Homo sapiens: one gene and its partners. The protein of the gene in region 1 interacts with the protein of each later gene in a biochemical or structural test. Each region holds a gene or a part of one and is shown in the gene's direction. Other genes may lie near its edges.

Region 1 (7,201 bases):
AGTTTTAGACAGCAATGAGTACATATATTATTAAATAAACAAAGGAGTGTCATAATCAGAGCCATACTTTTGCAAATGTTTTATTAAATATCTATGTTTTGGTGATATAAAGGTGAATAGAACCAGCAGCTCTTGACCTGTTAGGGGTGTGTCAGTTTTGGTCCTGTTTGACCTCAAACACGTTCTTGACCCTTCTGTCGCTCTCTACTGTATGACATAAAGCTTGACTCTATATAGGCAATGTTCCCCAAGCTCTTCTGTCGGCCTGCTACTGGCTGGGCTCAGTAAATAGGAAGCACTGGTGGGAGGCTGGAGGGCAGGAGGAAGCAGCCATATTTTTCCCCCATTCCCTTTCTGCCTCAGTAGAGTCTCCTCTAAGACTACCACTCCCTCATCAGACAAGTCTTCCACGTTCCGCAGTCAAACCAGCCTCTTGATTGCTTCCTCTCTCCTTATCCTTCTCATTAGCATAGTGGCTTCCTACTGTTGCTAACCACTGAGATGCCTTAGTTGTAAGCTGCTGGGCGTCTTAGCTTTTCTCTCACCAGTGTAAACGAATTCTCTCATTAAATCTTTCCATGTTAAATACTCAGAATGGTTTCTACTTTTTTTACTGCATGCTGTCTCATACAGAAGGTAACAAATCTATTCAAGAAAACCTTCACAGATGATAGTTTTGGGGACTCCCAGAACTCTTGAAGCTTGTCCATTCATCCATGACTAAGACTACTAATAAAACAAAAAACCAAGTAAGTTTCAAATTGGGAAGATGAAAAAGTTCCAGAAACTGATGGTAGTGATGGTTGCAGAAAAATGTCAATATAGTTAACACTACTGATCTGTACATTAAAAACAAACAACAACAACAACAACAACAACAACAAACTCATTGTTTTGGGCTTTAAGAACTATACATTTTTAAGTGTTGAATTTTGTTAGTATATTTTATCAAAAAAAAGTAAACACACATCTACAATGAGACATGATAAGGTTGTAACAGAAGTACAATGCTATGGCAACATTTAAGAAGTACTGACTGTACTTGCTGAATGAAGTTTCAGAGATCAGGCATGACCTGAACCTTGAATAGAAGTGTACTAGGAAGACAAAGAGAAGTAGAATACATACAAGAATTTTCAAAGAAACTTCAATTCGTTTGGCATGTCTGCAGCATAAAACAGATGTTAGGAAGTTGAGATCAAGTTGGAGAGGTAGGTAGGATCAGTTCCACAGAGCACCTTGAATAAATAGATAAAAACTGAACTGATGGCCCAGAGGCAACAAACACTTTGATGTATTCTGGCCCACACAACATTTTGTAAAATCCCAGCAAGGCAATAAGGGCTACTTAAGTGGAGTAGTGAGATGCAAAAGTCAGAGTGCAGTATCCTGAAGGATAAAAGGTAGGTGAAGAACAGCAACTAAGTGGAATTCATTGTTCTTTGAATAAATTTGACTTGTGAAAGGGTGACACAGAACATAAGACAGAATGTTCTGTTTAATGGGTGTCTAATGTCTAGTGGGGTCCAGAAAAGTGTTTTTTTGTGTGTATGTTTAAGAATTTAAAAAAAACCTAATTATCTGAACACTAAGGGGAGAAAACTTAACTTCTCTATGTTCAGCAATTGGCACAGTGTTTGGAACATACTAGGCACCCAAAGATTTGCTAGAAAAAAAACATTATGAAGGGACCAATAACAAGAGGAGCTGAAGATGGCGAGGGGGTACTGATAGGAAAAGAATCATGAGTAAATAATAAACCTCATATGAGAAAGATATACACGATATGTATCTATTTAAGATGTAAAATGATAAACGACAAAAGTAAGAGCATTAGGCATGGGGAGGCTTTTTTGTATTGTATACTCCTGCCCATCTGAAATTTTTAGTAAGAATAGAATTATCTCAACTTTCAGACTAAAAGGTATAGTGTGAAAGCTTCAGGGAGATTTGTAACAACAGTAAATAAAATGAATTGCGAGGACAACTGTCTGGGAAGCCATGACAGAAGTCCAAAAGAGAAGTAATGGCAGGCACATTGCGGGATTGGTGGCAGTGAAAATGGAATGTGAATGACAAAGATTTTTAAGATAAGAAAACCATGGCTGGCGTTTTTTGTCCATTAAATGAAAAGCAGGAAGTCAGCAGAGTAGCTGGTTTGTGGAGAAAGAATACTCACACATCGATGTGAATTATTTCAATTAGAAAATGATACTGCTTTCTTAGGGCTTTCTTAACTAGGGGTGATTCTGCCCTCCAGGGGACATACTAGCAATATCTAGAGACATTTTCACTGATCACAACTGGGTAAGGGTAGGGTGGGGAACGGGTGTCCTACTGTAATCTAGTGAATAGAAGCCAGGAATGCTGCTAAACATCCTACAATGTTTGAGCACAGGATAGCTCCCCACAATAAAGAATTATGAGGCCCAAAATGTTAACAGTACTGAGGCTGAGAAACCATGTTTAAGACTATAGTTACCGAAACTCAACTAGATTACCAAACTGCCAAAACTCAGAATTCTTAAGCAAAAGATTAATCAGACATTAACAAAACATTAAACTTGTCATTAAGTTTCTTCAAAAATGGATGGTGGAACCATTTCCGTTTAACGTTTCCTGCAAAATGTGCTTATCAAGAGCCCTGCGCAAATAACATTTTTGTGGACAGCGCTGGGCATTTAAAAGAGGCACAAGACAAATGGGTTTTCCGAACAATAAAATAATAGTAGTAATGGCTGTGAATACTATGGGAGGTTTCATCACAGATGCTTGCCATTTACTTTTAGGGACGTCGCATACGACGTCCGTAAATTACTGGCTCGGGTTTTGAGCTTTACCTGGCTCTCGTCCCCTGTAGTACAATCCTCTTTATTCTTTCAGGGGACAAACAACAACAAAACCCGTCTCTCACACAGACAATACACCCTGACAGACAAGTGACCCACAAACAATCCCTCCTCAAATGAAGGTAAAACTAGGGCTAGAAAACGTTCAACTAATTTAAGGCAATTAACCCTCTGAAATTTTTCGCTGATCAAAGGAACAGGAATTGCTGTTTTAAAATATGCAACTGGCATTTCACACCTCTACACTGGACGACGTATTGCGTGGAGGATGGAGAAGGAAGATCACCCCTACTCCCAAATTCGTAGTTATAAGGGCGGGTTATTAGAAGGGCGCCAGGAAGGTCTCTCTACAAAGATGGGGGGCCGGGGAACTCCCTATTTGCCCTATTTTGGTCCCAACACTGAACCAAGGAAATTGCGCCCAAGGTTGAAGCACACGCAATCCGTCCGTCATGCAGACAAATGCTCTTTCAGGGGTCCTAATTAAGTGTGGAGGCCTGACTTTCCTTCCGAATCCGCCCCAGGTGTTCCACCCCGAGCTTCCCCTCGGGCTTCCCCTCGCCACGCAGCCTCTGAAGAGAGGAGCATCTACATACAAAGAGGCTTAAACTGCCCAGAACCTCCGAATGACGAAGAATCACCGCCAGTCTCAACTCGTAAGCTGGGAGGCAAAACCCCAAAGCTTCCCTACCAAGGGAAAACCTTTGGCCTCAAAGGTCCTTCTGTCCAGCATAGCCGGGTCCAATAACCCTCCATCCCGCGTCCGCGCTTACCCAATACAAGCCGGGCTACGTCCGAGGGTAACAACATGATCAAAACCACAGCAGGAACCACAATAAGGAACAAGACTCAGGTTAAAGCAAACACAGCGACAGCTCCTGCGCCGCATCTCCTGGTTCCAGTGGCGGCACTGAACTCGCGGCAATTTGTCCCGCCTCTTTCGCTTCACGGCAGCCAATCGCTTCCGCCAGAGAAAGAAAGGCGCCGAAATGAAACCCGCCTCCGTTCGCCTTCGGAACTGTCGTCACTTCCGTCCTCAGACTTGGAGGGGCGGGGATGAGGAGGGCGGGGAGGACGACGAGGGCGAAGAGGGTGGGTGAGAGCCCCGGAGCCCGAGCCGAAGGGCGAGCCGCAAACGCTAAGTCGCTGGCCATTGGTGGACATGGCGCAGGCGCGTTTGCTCCGACGGGCCGAATGTTTTGGGGCAGTGTTTTGAGCGCGGAGACCGCGTGATACTGGATGCGCATGGGCATACCGTGCTCTGCGGCTGCTTGGCGTTGCTTCTTCCTCCAGAAGTGGGCGCTGGGCAGTCACGCAGGGTTTGAACCGGAAGCGGGAGTAGGTAGCTGCGTGGCTAACGGAGAAAAGAAGCCGTGGCCGCGGGAGGAGGCGAGAGGAGTCGGGATCTGCGCTGCAGCCACCGCCGCGGTTGATACTACTTTGACCTTCCGAGTGCAGTGGTAGGGGCGCGGAGGCAACGCAGCGGCTTCTGCGCTGGGAAATTCAGTCGTGTGCGACCCAGTCTGTCCTCTCCCCAGACCGCCAATCTCATGCACCCCTCCAGAGTGGCCCTTGACTCCTCCCTCTCCTCACTCCATCTTTCCTGGCCTCTCTCCGGGTGCTTAGCGGACTTGGCCAATAACCTCCTCCTTTTAAACGCCCTGAATTGAACCCTGCCTCCTGCGCATCCTCTTTTTGTGTCACCTTAGGGTTCAGATTTAACTACGCGACTTGACTAGTCATCTTTTGATCTCTCTCTCGTATTTAGTACTTTTAGTCAGCGAGCATTTATTGATATTTCAACTTCAGCCTCGCGGTTAAGAGCTTGGGCTCTGGAATCATACGGCTGGAATTGGAATTCTGTCAGTCGTGTGGCCGCTCTCTACTGTCTTGTGAAGATAAGTGAGATAATCTTGACCTGTGGTGAGCACTCGTGAGCGTTAGCTGCTGTATTTACCAGGTACAGATAAGACAACTACAGTGGATGATAATGTATGTGGTGATAGGGGAGTACTCTGATGGTAGAGGAGTGACTTTGGTTCTCTGCAAACTCAGCCTGAGACTATCAATTCAGTTTGTGGTGAGACCTCGCAGTGTTACCTTGGCAGATGGTAGAAGCCTTCCAGATGGAAGGAAAAATGCGTGTAAAGGCACAAAGTGTAGAAGGACCCTGAAGCTCCAGCGTGAGGCCTGGCATTGAATGAAATATATTTTGTGGGTTTTCAGCTGCTGAAGTCATAGGAATGGATGAGACCAAGAAAACAAAGCTGTTTTTGAGGTATGAGCGGAAGAAGAGATATCAGGAGACTTTCGAAACAGTCATAACGGAAGTTAATATGATCATTGCTAACATTTGCTGTGTTTCAGGCACTGTAAGCATGTATATGGGTCCTTAAAGGGACTCATAGAGGTAGGTACTAGTATTGTTTTTCCTTTTATCATTGAGAAACTGAGGTTTGAAGAGATTAGTGAACTTGCTCTAGATTATACAGTTTGTAAGTGGCTGAACCAGGATTTGAACTAATACAATCTGACTACAGAGGCCACACTCCTTAGCACTAGAAAAGAATGGCATGCCAAGGGCAGAGTTATTTCTAGGAAGATGGGATATAAGCGTCATTGTCAAGTTGTGCAAAGGGGTCAACTTGGTTGAGATCTAAAAAGGAACACTGAATTCGTCAATTCAGAGGCTCGTAGGAAGTAGGAAATCCTTATCTTTTCGTTTGAACCTTGAGTGGAACCTAGATATTCTGGATTAATGTATAAATGAAGTTCATCTTTATATGGTGACACTCATACTCTAGTTGACTACCTAATAGTTCCTCTGCCTTCTTTCAGTTCCGCCAACATACTGTGTTCTTTAACATTGTAGAACCCTTTGGCTATGCTAGTCTCCTTCCCTGAAGTGTTGGTCCTCTAGCCCTTTTTTTGATTGGCACCAGTTAGTTCAGATCTTGGCTTTATTATAAACTCCTCTGAGATATATGTTCCCTGACAGTTTATCTAAAATGATTCTCTCTACAGTTATTTTCTATTACTGTGTTTTTGTTTCCTCAGAGGCATACATCACAATTTGGAATTATGCATTGGTTTATCAATTTACTTGTTTATTGTCACCCTGCTGCCCAGATATGACTTCATGAGGGTAGGATTTGTATCTGTTTAGTTCATTATTTGTCTAGCTATAAGTAGTAAATATTGTTTGCATCTATCAGTGAATGAGCATCTTCTGTTTATGTAGATAATACTGAACTGTTTTGTTTTCTTCAAAGTAATCATTAAGCTGAAGGTAAGAAAAACAAGTTCAAGGAAGTCACACCATGGGGAAAAAAAAGTCAAGTTTAGGGCTGCCTCTTCCGGGAAGTGTCAAATCTTTAGTATATTTAGGAATAAAGGTGCCAAACCTTATGGTTCTTTGGATATTGCTAAGGTATTTTCATTGGTTAGATTACCAGTTTCATTTTCCTTATTGACTCAAGAGGGCTTTAAACTGAGATTGAAGAAGTAAGAAGATTCCTAGATAAAACCATAAGGAATGGAAAAACAAAAATGATAATACTTGTCCACAGGAAGTATATAATCAAATGAAAAGAACTCAAATAACAATCTGTAATCTATAGCAGAGTAAAGCGGAAGTTGTAATAGTGTTGGGGGATGGGGGAAGTCAGAAGAACCACCAGTGAATATAAAAGGAGAAGAGAATCAGAGCCATCTGCTAATAAAATGGGTAGTCAGCTCTTTTTGTTTTTTTTGTCTTGTTTTGTTTTGAGACAGTCTCGCTCTGTCGCCCATGCTGGAGTGCAATTGCGTGATCTCAGCTAACTGCACTTTCCGCCTCCTGGGTTCAAGTGAGTCTCCTACCTCAGTCTCCCCAGTAGCTAGGATTGCAGGCACATGCTACCACACCTGGTTAATTTTTGTATTTTTAGTAGAGACGGGGTTTCACGATGTTGGCCAGGCTGGCTGGTCTCGAACTCCTGACCTCGTGGAACGCCCACCTCGGCCTCCCAGAGTGCTGGGATTACAGGCATGAGCCACCACGCCTAGCCCCGGTAGTCAGCTCTTACTGAGAATATTCAAAGACAGGGCATTCATTTTGTAAGAGACATTCCTTCCTTCATAGGAAGATTGGACCTGGTCTTTTAGTTCCTCCCAATTTTGAGATTCTGTGAGATTGAATCGGGGCAGAGAAACATACTTAATCTTGAAAGATTAAGTAGAATTTAGATGGATGGATAGGAGAAGGACTTTCCCTACCTTTTTACTTCTTGAGATATAGTTATTTGTAGGTATAATATACATAAATATATGTATTTTTTCTCTGTTTACAGACATTCATAGTTTAATAAAAA
Region 2 (4,612 bases), on another chromosome or scaffold:
GCGCCCAGCTTAGTTATAGTTATAATCAAACAGTATTGAGCATGGTCTGCCAGGTAACTGTTCTACATCCTTTACGTGGAACATCTCACTTGAGCCTAGTAACCCTATATGTAGAAACTGTGGTTACCCTATTTTGCCACTGAAGGAATTACATACAGAGAGACACGGGCATTCAGAGAACAAGTCACTTGCCTAAGTTGTATGCTAGCAAGTGGTCGAGCTAACGTCCAACCCAGGCAGCCTGACTTCAGAGCTTTGCTTTTGATCATGCTTACGAGTATCACGGGATTTAGTACCGACCAAGCACACAGCAGTGTGACAGCCCCGAGCTCGCCTGTGCAGCCTTCCTGGGTATCACTCCGTTCTGCCCGGAAAGGCACCATTCAGGCCGTGAGTGTAAACGTACGAGTGGGCAGGGGGAGTGGTAGAAACGCCCCTGCTGATTGCAGGGTTTACTCACGTATTTACCTTAACGCCCGTTCTTCTGCGACTACTATAAACATTAAATGAGATAGGGGATCAGATGTCACCGTGAAACAATGTCAGGGAGTGGGGTGGGGCTGGGGGGGATTTTTGGGGCCATTCAGCCCCATCGTGTCTGGACAGGGAAGGTGAAGTGAAGAGAGGCTGCCTCCCCAGAGCTGAGACAGGACAGACTCGGTCCTCTCCCTCTGCTGCAGGTGCTCTTCCTTTCACCACTCAGCTTTTCTTGAAATGAAAGTTTGAAAGTTTAGCTTTCAGAACTAGCTGTGTGGCTTTGTGCAAGTCACATGTCCTCTCTGGGCTGTATCCCCTGCAGTAGGGAGAATAAATGAAACTAGAGAAACCCTCTAAAGTCCATCTCACTAGGATTCTAGGCTTCTGGGTGTTTGGGAGCTTGGGTAAAGAATCAGAAGGGCCTGTGCTGGAGAAAGGACCTGTTCACTCGCCCAGCCCCAGACATTCAGGAGGAGGCTGTCACTCACTGGAATGACTGAACTCTGAACCCGTGCGTCTGTTCCCTCCCGCTGGGCTCACTGAAACCACTGAAGCAAAAGGGGTTTCACTGCTCCACACCACACTTTCACTGCTCACAAACTACTTCTCCCTTTTTGAAGGACGAGTCTCGAATTAAGGCCACTGTGATGGACGTGAAGCCCGTGGACTACAGAGAGTATGGCCGAAGGCTGGTCATGAGCATCAGGAGAAGTGCATTGATGTGAGAGGAGCAGTGCCAATCGGGCAGAAGTTTGCAAATAGGCAGAATGGAATCGATTTCCTCCCACCTCCGTGTGACGATCCCATGTTAGCTACACAGTGCAGAGGCTCTTGATGGTGGACTAAGCAATTTCCCCCCTCGTGCGCATCTCAGAACCCATCGGTAGGCAAAGGAAAATACGCTCAGGTGGTTGTGGTGTAGACTGTGTCAGGCCTACGGAGTCAGCCAGTGGCTAGCGCAAGACCAGTCACTCCCTCTGCCTTCAGGCTTCTGTCAATTTCATTATCATCAAGCAGGAATTATGTCGTAAGTCACTGACCCTAACTGCAGACCATGAAGTAAATTATGTAACTAGGTTTTTGCTTCTCCAGTGGTGACCACCCCCCCCCATCCCCGCTCACAACTTGGGTTCTTCTCAGCGGGGCGAGCTGAGAAGCGGTCATGAGCACCTGGGGATTTTAGTAAGTGTGTCTTCCTAGAATTCGAAGGCTCTCTCTTTCTAGAGGTGCTACATAGTTGGTAATGCTTGGAATGGCAATAGGGTAGAATGATTAATCAAAGGCATATCTTCTATATCTGAAGAGTATCCTTCCTTCAGGGTTTAATAGACTGAGTCAGATGGGTCTGATATTAATCAAAATTGTCTCTTCTGAGGACCGCTGATAAGCATTGACTTGCCGTCCCCTAAGGAAATCCGAGCGGCTACAAAGCGTTTCTTTACTTCTCACTTCAATTAATGCTGCGCTTCGCTTGGTGAGTGCGTACTTTTTCTACCTGTACACATTCCTGCATTCATGTATTTTGTTTTTTTTGACTAAAGCTATGTTACATGGAAAGGATTTTGAAGCCTTTTGTTTCCCTTGCTTTGTTTTAATAAACAGTATATTCTTTGGTTGTGAATCCTACTTTCTTTGAATGCAAAGAGTTCCTATAACTGGAAAGCAATTAATTAGCCTTCATAATAAATGTTCACTTGGGGGGGATGTTAACTCATTATAAACCCGAAGATTAGTCCAAGGCATGGAGATCCTTCTTCCTAGTGTTTGCAGCCCTGAAATGCATCTTTCAAAGCATGAAAACACTAAAAACAAAAAGCCATTTTGCCTGAGGATGCTGATGATCTGGCACTTGGGATTTTATTGATGTTTACGCAGCAGTCTAACACCAACCACGCTTTGAAATGTGTACAGACAGTGAGCTGGTAAGAAAACAGTAATTATGCTAGTGGGCCTTTCAGTCAGCAAAAGCATGCTCGCTCTGTGTGTTCCTAATCATATTAATTATCTATCCGGTGGCTGCAACACACCGCCTGCCATTGGCCGCACATCTCGCCGTCGTACCCCGGCAGTGCGGCGGTCACTCTGCAGCCAGAGGACCTGCTGTTCATCACTGCACATGCCGCCTGCGGAGGCTTTTGGATATGGGGAGTGATGGTGTCCTGTCTGTCTCCCCCCTCGGTGTCTGCCGTTGACATAGGGGCCAGCCAGCCCTAGACGGGATGACTTCCGTTCCTGAGGACAGACACAGAGGGACTCCTGCTCAGCCTCACTAATTGTTTAGACACATTCCTTCCTACCCTTCTCTAGTCTCAGGAGATGGTAACTGGGTCGCATTTCAGTCTCTGACTGAGGCCTCAGCCATTTTTACGGAAGTTCTTTTCTGTCTGACCTTGCTTATAAAGCATCGACGAGAAAATTACAGTCTTCAACCCTCTTCTGGATTGACAAATTGTGGCTGGGAAGTGGCGATCTAGCTTTCAGCCCAGTAACCAGTCTTTCATGCCTACTACTCCCAGCATTCCCTCCTCTCCCCACGTGTCTGTCCACACAGTGAAGAGGCCTGACCAGCCGTGGTACCAGGACAGGACGTGTCCAGGGAACGCTGACACCTGTCCTCGCGCCTTCTCAGTGGCCAGCGTGATGAAACCAGCACGTCTCCGTGGATGTGATTGGGAACCCAGGGGCAGTGCCAGGGGGAGGGCTCCCTCGAGGAGGCTGTTTCTAACAGATTTCCCCACTCAAAGATCAGATCACCAGCAGAGGAGCATCAGAAACTGGCTCCACTGTTGGGCTTTTCAGAGATTTTGGTCCCTGCGGGTTGCCTAAATAGATTCTGGCCCACAGTTTACCTCGAAAGGCTGTTGATGTTGTTCTGTTTCTCCTCTTTCACTTAGAGATCAATGTTGATTTTGCGTACACCATGACATCAGCGTTAGGCAATTAGGAGAAAAAAATCTAATCATTTCGCCTTTATTTCAAGTGGTTCTTGAATTCCCTCCAGTCTCATTGTGAAAGGGGCAGGGAAAAAAATAAAAGGGTAATAATCTGATTTCTGTCCATATTTCCAGTGTTTTATGCTTTCCATTAAAACCTTGCTAATCTCTCGCGTGCTGTTCCTTTTTTGAACTGCAGGGTCAAAAATGTTCCCCTCCCCCACTTCTGTTTCCTGAGTGGGCTGTCTTCAAAAAGTATAAATACTATTGATCGTGGTATTTAATACACTAATGAAACCCATGGTTATTGACTACATAATTAATATACTGTCCAAAAGTGAAGTTTGGCCGCCCAGTATGTAAAGGTTTATATTGACTCATGTTTCTTTGGCAATATGCCGCCCAAGGTTTTATTTATAGAGGATGAAACAGGTTGTTTGGTCTCCTTTTCTTCTTTTCACCTGTTAGAAGGCCACTATTCCCCTAGTAAACTGATTGTTTCCTTGTCTCAAAGGGAAGATTCCCCCCACTCCCCGGCCACCTTTTATGTGGTTTGTTAACTCTTAGTCTTATATCCACTCCGCTGGTAGAGTTCTGGCTTTTATAAACACCTTTGGAAGTCATCGGTTCCTCAAAAAGAGAGCATAGATGTTTAATTTTCACTTATTCAAAAAAACTGGTATTTTTGTTATTAAGACATTAAGTAAATGTTTAAGAAAAAAAAGGATAATTTGGACTATTGACTTTCTTATGCAAGTAATCATATTTGTTTGTTTGTTTGTTTATTTATTTTGAGACGGAGTCTTGCTCTGTCACCCAGGCTGGAGTGCAGTGGCACGATCTCAGCTCACTGCAACCTCCGCCTCCCAGGTTCAAGCGATTCTGCCTCAGCCTCCTGAGTAGCTGGGACTACAGGCATGTGCCACCATGCCTGGCTAATTTTCTGTATTTTTAGTAGAGACGGGGTTTCACCGTGTTAGCCAGGATGGTCTCGAACTCCTGACCTTGTGATCCACCTGCCTCGGCCTCCCAAAGTGCTGGGATTACAGGTGTGAGCCACCGCGCCCGGCCTCCATGTTTATTTTAGGAAAATAATCTACAGTTAAGAAAAACAAAATTGGCCTGGCACAGTGGCTCATGCCTATAATCCCAACACTTTGGGAGGCTGAGGCGGGCAAATCGCTTGAGCCAAGGAGTTCGAG
Region 3 (7,034 bases), on another chromosome or scaffold:
GTGATTCTCGTGCCTTAGCCACCAGAGTAGCTGGGATTACTGGCGTGTGCCACCACACCCGGCTAATTTTTGTATTTTTAGTAGAGATGGGGTTTCACCATGTTAGCCAGGCTGGCCTCGAACTTCTGGCCTCAAGTGATCTGCCCACCTTGGCCTCCCAAAGTGCTGGGATTACAGGCATGAGCCACTGCGCCTGGCAAAAGATGATTTTTTGTATAATAAAGTTATTTAAAGTACTTAGGAAAAATTTTTAAAATATGAATATTATGGTGTTGAGAAATACTTCCTATGTCATTTTCCTCTGCTTTTCCCCTTCTCTTTTGTCATCTAAATGAAGAGAAGCCAAAAGCTGTACCTTGTCTTAAATTTTGGTTAATCATTTGCTTCTAAGAGGTAGATAAGACCTTACTATTAATTCTGTATTAAAGAATTGTTATCACTCTTTATTTAGATTTTCAGATTCTACTTCAAAGACTCCTCCTCAAGAAGAATTACCTACTCGAGTGTCATCTCCTGTATTTGGAGCTACCTCTAGTATCAAAAGTGGTTTAGATTTGAATACAAGTTTGTCCCCTTCTCTTTTACAGCCTGGGAAAAAAAAACATCTGAAAACACTCCCTTTTAGCAACACTTGTATATCTAGATTAGAAAAAACTAGATCAAAATCTGAAGATAGTGCCCTTTTCACACATCACAGTCTTGGGTCTGAAGTGAACAAGATCATTATCCAGTCATCTAATAAACAGATACTTATAAATAAAAATATAAGTGAATCCCTAGGTGAACAGAATAGGACTGAGTACGGTAAAGATTCTAACACTGATAAACATTTGGAGCCCCTGAAATCATTGGGAGGCCGAACATCCAAAAGGAAGAAAACTGAGGAAGAAAGTGAACATGAAGTAAGCTGCCCCCAAGCTTCTTTTGATAAAGAAAATGCTTTCCCTTTTCCAATGGATAATCAGTTTTCCATGAATGGAGACTGTGTGATGGATAAACCTCTGGATCTGTCTGATCGATTTTCAGCTATTCAGCGTCAAGAGAAAAGCCAAGGAAGTGAGACTTCTAAAAACAAATTTAGGCAAGTGACTCTTTATGAGGCTTTGAAGACCATTCCAAAGGGCTTTTCCTCAAGCCGTAAGGCCTCAGATGGCAACTGCACGTTGCCCAAAGATTCCCCAGGGGAGCCCTGTTCACAGGAATGCATCATCCTTCAGCCCTTGAATAAATGCTCTCCAGACAATAAACCATCATTACAAATAAAAGAAGAAAATGCTGTCTTTAAAATTCCTCTACGTCCACGTGAAAGTTTGGAGACTGAGAATGTTTTAGATGACATAAAGGTTTGTGTTAAATGTTCAAGGATTTTGATTAAAATGATTGCTTGTGATTTCATTTAGAGCTAACAATTATTTCTGTTTTAGAGTGCTGGTTCTCATGAGCCAATAAAAATACAAACCAGGTCAGACCATGGAGGATGTGAACTTGCATCAGTTCTTCAGTTAAATCCATGTAGAACTGGTAAAATAAAGTCTCTACAAAACAACCAAGGTGTGTACACCATAAACAGGATCTCCACTTTTTTAATGACTTCAGATTGAATGTCATTATTTACTTTTTTAAATAGATTGAATTGTTTTGGAAAAAAACTTATTTCTTCCTTCAGGTGTCTGTATTTATAGGACGATTCTCACATTTTACCGGTGATTTTTCTGTTCTTTTTTTTTTTTTTTTTTTTTTTTGAGACGGAGTCTCGCTCTGTCGCCCAGGCTGGAGTGCAGTGGCGCGATCTCGGCTCACTGCAAGCTCCGCCTCCCGGGTTCACACCATTCTCCTGCCTCAGCCTCCCGAGTAGCTGGGACTATAGGCGCCCACCATGCCCGGCTAATTTTTTTTTTTTGTATTTTTAGTAGAGACGGGGTTTCACCACATTAGCCAGGATGGTCTAGATCTCCTGACATCGTGATCCACCAGCGTCGGCCTCCCAAAGTGCTGGGATTACAGGCGTGAGTCACTGCGCCCGGCCACTTATATACGTTTTTAAACTCCTTTAAAAACATTGTTGGCCCGGTACGGTGGCTCACACCTGTAATCCCAGCACTTTGGGAGGCCGACGCTGGTGGATCACGATGTCAGGAGATCGAGACCATCCTGGCTAACGTGGTGAAACCCCATCTCTACTAAAAACACAAAAAATAAGCCAGGCATGGTGGCAGGCGCCTGTAGTCCCAGCTATTCGGGAGGCTGAGGCAGGAGAATGGTGTGAACCCGGGAGGTGGAGCTTGCAGTGAGCCGAGATCGTGCCACTGCACTGCACTCCAGCCTGGGTGACAGAGCAAGACTCCGTCTCAAAAAAAAAAAAGAAAAAAAAAATTGTTTGCCTTAAGATATATAGGCATCTTTTCATAATTTTGCTATATTTTATTATTATTATTATTATTATTTGAGACAGGGTCCTACTCTGTCACCCAGACTGGAGTGCAGTGGCATGATCACGGCTCACTTGCAGCCTTGACCTCCCAGGCTCAGGTGGATCCTCCCATCTCAGCCCCCTGGATAGCTGGGACTACAAGCATGCACCACCACACCCAGCTGATTTTTTTATTTTTTGAAGTGACTGGGTTTCGCCTTGTTGCCCAGGTTGGTCTCGAACTACTGGACTCAAGCCATCTGCCTGCCTTGGCCTCCCAAAGTGCTGGGATTACAGGTGTGAACCACCCACGCCCAGCCTGCTATCTTTAAAAAAGTAATTTTTTTTTTCAGCCACCAAACATTTCTGTAGTTCAAGTGCAGTATTTTTTCTTGTATTCTTCATTGGCAAGTTATTCCTTTATTCTGGGTTTATTTTCCCTTTTTCCTGAAGCACAGTCATTAGTTGTTTTTCCAGTGAGTGTTTTAGTCTCTATATGAAAACATTTTTTTCACTATCATTCATGATTTTTTTTGAGCTTTTTGTTTTTATTTTTTTCATGGTTGCTCTAGGGATTACAGTATCTACCTACTTAGCCTTTTACAATCTACTTGGAGTTAATGTACTATTTCATGTTCTGTAACTACACTTTATGTAGTTCCTGTGTATTTTATCTACATATATTGAAAACCCCATCAATGTTATAGTTTTTAATTTTAAAAAATTTTAATTGAAATATAAATCACATACCATAAAAATCACCCATTAAAATGTTCAATTCAGTGGTTTGGTATACCCACAGAGTTGTACAACCATCACTGTAGTCTAGGTTTACAACATTTTCATCACTTTCCTTCCCCATATACCCTCTGCAGTCCTAGGCACCTTAAATCTACTTTCTCTCTTTGTAGATTTGCCTATTCTGGGAGTTTTCATATAAATGGAATCGTTTAATATATGATCTTTTGTTACTTCTTTCACTTGGCATAATGTTTTCAGTTATCTGTGTTACAGCATATATCAATATTTTATTTCTTTTTATTGGATAATTTTTTATTGCATAAGTATACCATATTTTAGGTATTTATTAGCTGACATTCAAGTTGTCACTTTTTTGCTATTATGAACAATGCTGCTATGAACATTTGTATACAGGTTTTTGTGTGGATGTATGTTTTCATTTTTCTTGGATTATACCTAGGAGTGGAATTGTTGGGCCATATGCCAATTCTACATTTTACCTTTTGAAAGACTGCCTGTTTTCCAAAGCAGCTACACCATTTCACATTCCCACCAGCAGTATGTGAGGGTCCCAGTATCTCCACCTCCTCACTAGCACTTGTTATAGCTTTTTGATTTTTGCCATCTCGTGGTTTTGGTTTGCATTTCCTTGACTGCTGATGATGTTGAGCATCCTTTCATGTTTATTGGCAATTTGTATATCTTCTTTGGAGAACTGTCTATTTAGATCCTTTGCCCATCTTTAATTGGGATATTTGTCTTTTTATTATGGAGCTGTGAGAGTTCTTTATATATCTTAGATATAAGTCCTTTACCAGACATATGATTTGCAAAAATTTTCTATTCTTTAGGTCCCATAATATTTTAAAGTGATGAGAATTTTTGAAATCAGTTTTTTAATTGCATGCTCTTTCCCTTTACCTAAGATGTATCCTTTGAAAATATCCAGTGGAGTATAGATCCGGGAGCAGACCTTTCTCAGTATAAAATGGATGTTACTGTAATAGATACAAAGGTAAGTTAAAAAGTAAAACCAAAACTCATTTGACTTTTATTCCAATGAGTTGTTAGTCAACCTCCTCTCGTGACTCACTGTATCACCTTAAGATAATCAGATACGTCTTAAAACCTACATGTATTTATGCAGAAAATTAAGAAATAAAAATGCTTATTCTTCTAACTTTATGGTATTTTTTAAAGGGTAATACTTTCTGACTTTAAAGGCCTTTACTGAAAAATATTAATATAGTTTTTAAAAGAATGCAGTGGGCAGGCGCAGTGGCTCATGCCTGTAATCCCAACACTCTGGGAGGTCGAAGAGAGAGAATCACTTGAAGCCAGGAATTCGAGACCAGCCTGGGCAATATAGCAAGGCCCTGTCTCTATAGGAAATTTTAAAGTTAGCTGGGCATGGCAGTGCATACCTGTAGTCCTAGCTACTTGGGAGGCTGAGGTTGGGAGGATACCTTGAACCCAGGAATTCGAGGCTGCAGTGAGGTATGATCACACCACTGCACATCCAGCCTAGGCAACCAGAGCAAGACCCTGTCTCATAAATTAAAATAATGCAAAATGCTGCATATCTTATATAATTTTATCATTCATTAAAATAATTCATCATGTCTTCATTACCTTTAAAATAATGTACCATAAAATTCATTTTCCAAGTTGACTATTTTTAAAAGTTAAAATTCATAGTGGAAATAGTTTTTTGTCTTGTATTTAGCTTCTGTGTAGTTTCAGAAGTTCTCTTTCACTTGGTAGCATATTAATAACAAAGTATTTAACATACGCTGAGTAATATATGCCTATCAAGAAATTTAATTTAATTTTTGAAAGTGTTCTTAGTGTACATTGATGTTCATTACTATAAGGCAAATTGGAAAATAAAGGCAGGAAAAGTTCAGGGGTGTTTAGTGGTAAATAATTCTCCCTTTCCTTGGCAGCAGTCCTTCTTTTCCTAGGCTTGATTATATTGAAGCTAAAATGTTTTATAAGCAGTAAAACCTAAATCCTTACCTGTTCGTAAAGTATAAAAGCAAATATAGCTTAATGCTTAAAAGTTGTAAAATGTATGTTATGTATATTTTACCAAAATGTTTTGTAAAAATTAAATATAAGACCATAAAGGAATAATTGTTAAAATTTTTGATTTTTAAAATATTTATTTAGGATGGCAGTCAGTCAAAATTAGGAGGAGAGACAGTGGACATGGACTGTACATTGGTTAGTGAAACCGTTCTCTTAAAAATGAAGAAGCAAGAGCAGAAGGGAGAAAAAAGTTCAAGTAAGATCTGTTTTTGTTTTGTTATTTTTTTTAATAACGTTGTGTGAAGTTTGTAGTTGTACCATTGCACTGATTAGCTCAAGTGACCTCTTCACCATAAAGCAGGTTTTTTCCTGCTCTGTTAACTTTATGTTCCTCTTAGGAAAGCTCAGTTTCAGTGCGTCAGAAAAAAAGTCTTTAACCAAACTAATTTCATTTCAGAAAAGATTCATATGGCTTCCAGGGATTTGCAAATGACAGCCAGCTACCAGTTTTGTAAATAAAGTTCTACCAGAGCACAGCCTTATTCATTTCTTTATGTATTGCCCATCGCTGTTTGTTCCATACAGCTGCAGAGTTGAGTAGTTGATGCAGAGACCTTATAGCCCCACAAGCCTAAAATAGTTATTTTCTGACCCTTTAAGAAAAAGTTTGCTGATCCCTGGTGTAGACAATTTTTTATAAGTGGTATAACAGTAAGTCTTGAGTCCTGTGTTAGAATTAACGTTTTCTAAAGAAATTTGATAAGGAAAGAAAGGAGAAATCTACCGAGAAGTCTTAGTATAGTTTTACAGGTTAACATTCAGAATGATAGTGTATATGCTGAGTTAATCTGCTGTATTCCACCTCTACTGATAAGGCAATTTGGCCAAATTAGTGGTCTACAGCCCTTTGTAGTGAGAAACTATTAATTCTTTACCCAAAGTCTTGATTTTCCGGAAGAGATGAGAACAATAGGAGGATTTTGGTTAGCAGTACCTTAGCAACATTCCTAACTGTAGAGGCACATGACATGAGAACAGCTAGACTATGAACAGTTGTCATTTATCATCCTTATGTATTGAAGAGCGAGGGCCTGCCACATGGGGAAGCAGTGCTAAAAGCAGAGACATTCCCCAGTGATCATTTGTTAGAAGCCGAATACATTGAGGCTGGGTGTGCATTCCTTATCTTCTGCTGAATTTTCTATAGTCTACCTGCTCAGAGCAAAAAATAAAATAGTCTTGCCCTGGCTTCTTTTGAATCTACTTATCTACTGCTGCCTTAAATGCAGTAAATCAAAGAAAACTTTAGTAGTCTTTGCCTTATTTGTTCTTCAATGACAAATAGCAAACCATATGATGAAGCAGATGGTTACCTGGGTAGAGAAGCCAATACCTATTAAAAGAAAAAACCTTCACAGTAGTTTATTGCCATTTTATGGCTTGTATGACACTAAATAACTCTTCTTAAGAGGATACTTTGCTTTTAAGATTATTTTGTTCCTGATACTAGCCTCTGATCATGTTTTTCTCATTTTTGTAGAAAAGAGAAAATCTAAAGTATGACCACTTTAAATCTATTCAGAAGACAATAGTTTCTCAAATTTATTTGATGCAAGTATCATGTGAAAGAGAAATTAGCACTTGGACTAATGAGGGGAAATTATAGAGATAATTTTGGCTAATAAAGTGCTATGGATAGTATTGCTACATAATGAATGAATCACTTGAATAACTCAGAGGATTCAAACAATACCATTTTCTTATCTTCATAGTTCCTGTGGCTCAGGAATTCAGGAAAGGCTTGGCTGGTCAGTTCTGTTTCAGGGTCTCATGCAGTTGTAGGCAGATGGTG

The links.
Region 2: the proteins of ATM (region 1) and RPA1 form a complex in vitro, tested with the Homo sapiens proteins (3 studies listed by BioGRID, with this or other methods).
Region 3: of the proteins of ATM (region 1) and RBBP8, one has a biochemical effect on the other in vitro, tested with the Homo sapiens proteins (4 studies listed by BioGRID, with this or other methods).

The regions. Positions count from the first base shown.
Region 1 is NC_000011.10:108,218,878-108,226,078, forward strand, and holds the start of ATM (serine-protein kinase ATM), read left to right. Parts: upstream 1-4,189; 5' UTR 4,190-4,309; exon of another isoform or gene 4,310-5,259; intron 5,260-5,906; exon of another isoform or gene 5,907-6,697; intron 6,698-7,201. Other genes in the region: protein NPAT, read right to left, coding at 3,623-3,659.
Region 2 is NC_000017.11:1,895,974-1,900,585, forward strand, and holds the end of RPA1 (replication protein A 70 kDa DNA-binding subunit), read left to right. Parts: intron 1-1,097; coding exon 1,098-1,202; 3' UTR 1,203-4,109; downstream 4,110-4,612. UniProt on the Homo sapiens protein: As part of the heterotrimeric replication protein A complex (RPA/RP-A), binds and stabilizes single-stranded DNA intermediates that form during DNA replication or upon DNA stress.
Region 3 is NC_000018.10:22,992,297-22,999,330, forward strand, and holds part of RBBP8 (DNA endonuclease RBBP8), read left to right. Parts: intron 1-451; coding exon 452-1,343; intron 1,344-1,424; coding exon 1,425-1,551; intron 1,552-4,077; coding exon 4,078-4,166; intron 4,167-5,323; coding exon 5,324-5,438; intron 5,439-7,034. UniProt on the Homo sapiens protein: Endonuclease that cooperates with the MRE11-RAD50-NBN (MRN) complex in DNA-end resection, the first step of double-strand break (DSB) repair through the homologous recombination (HR) pathway.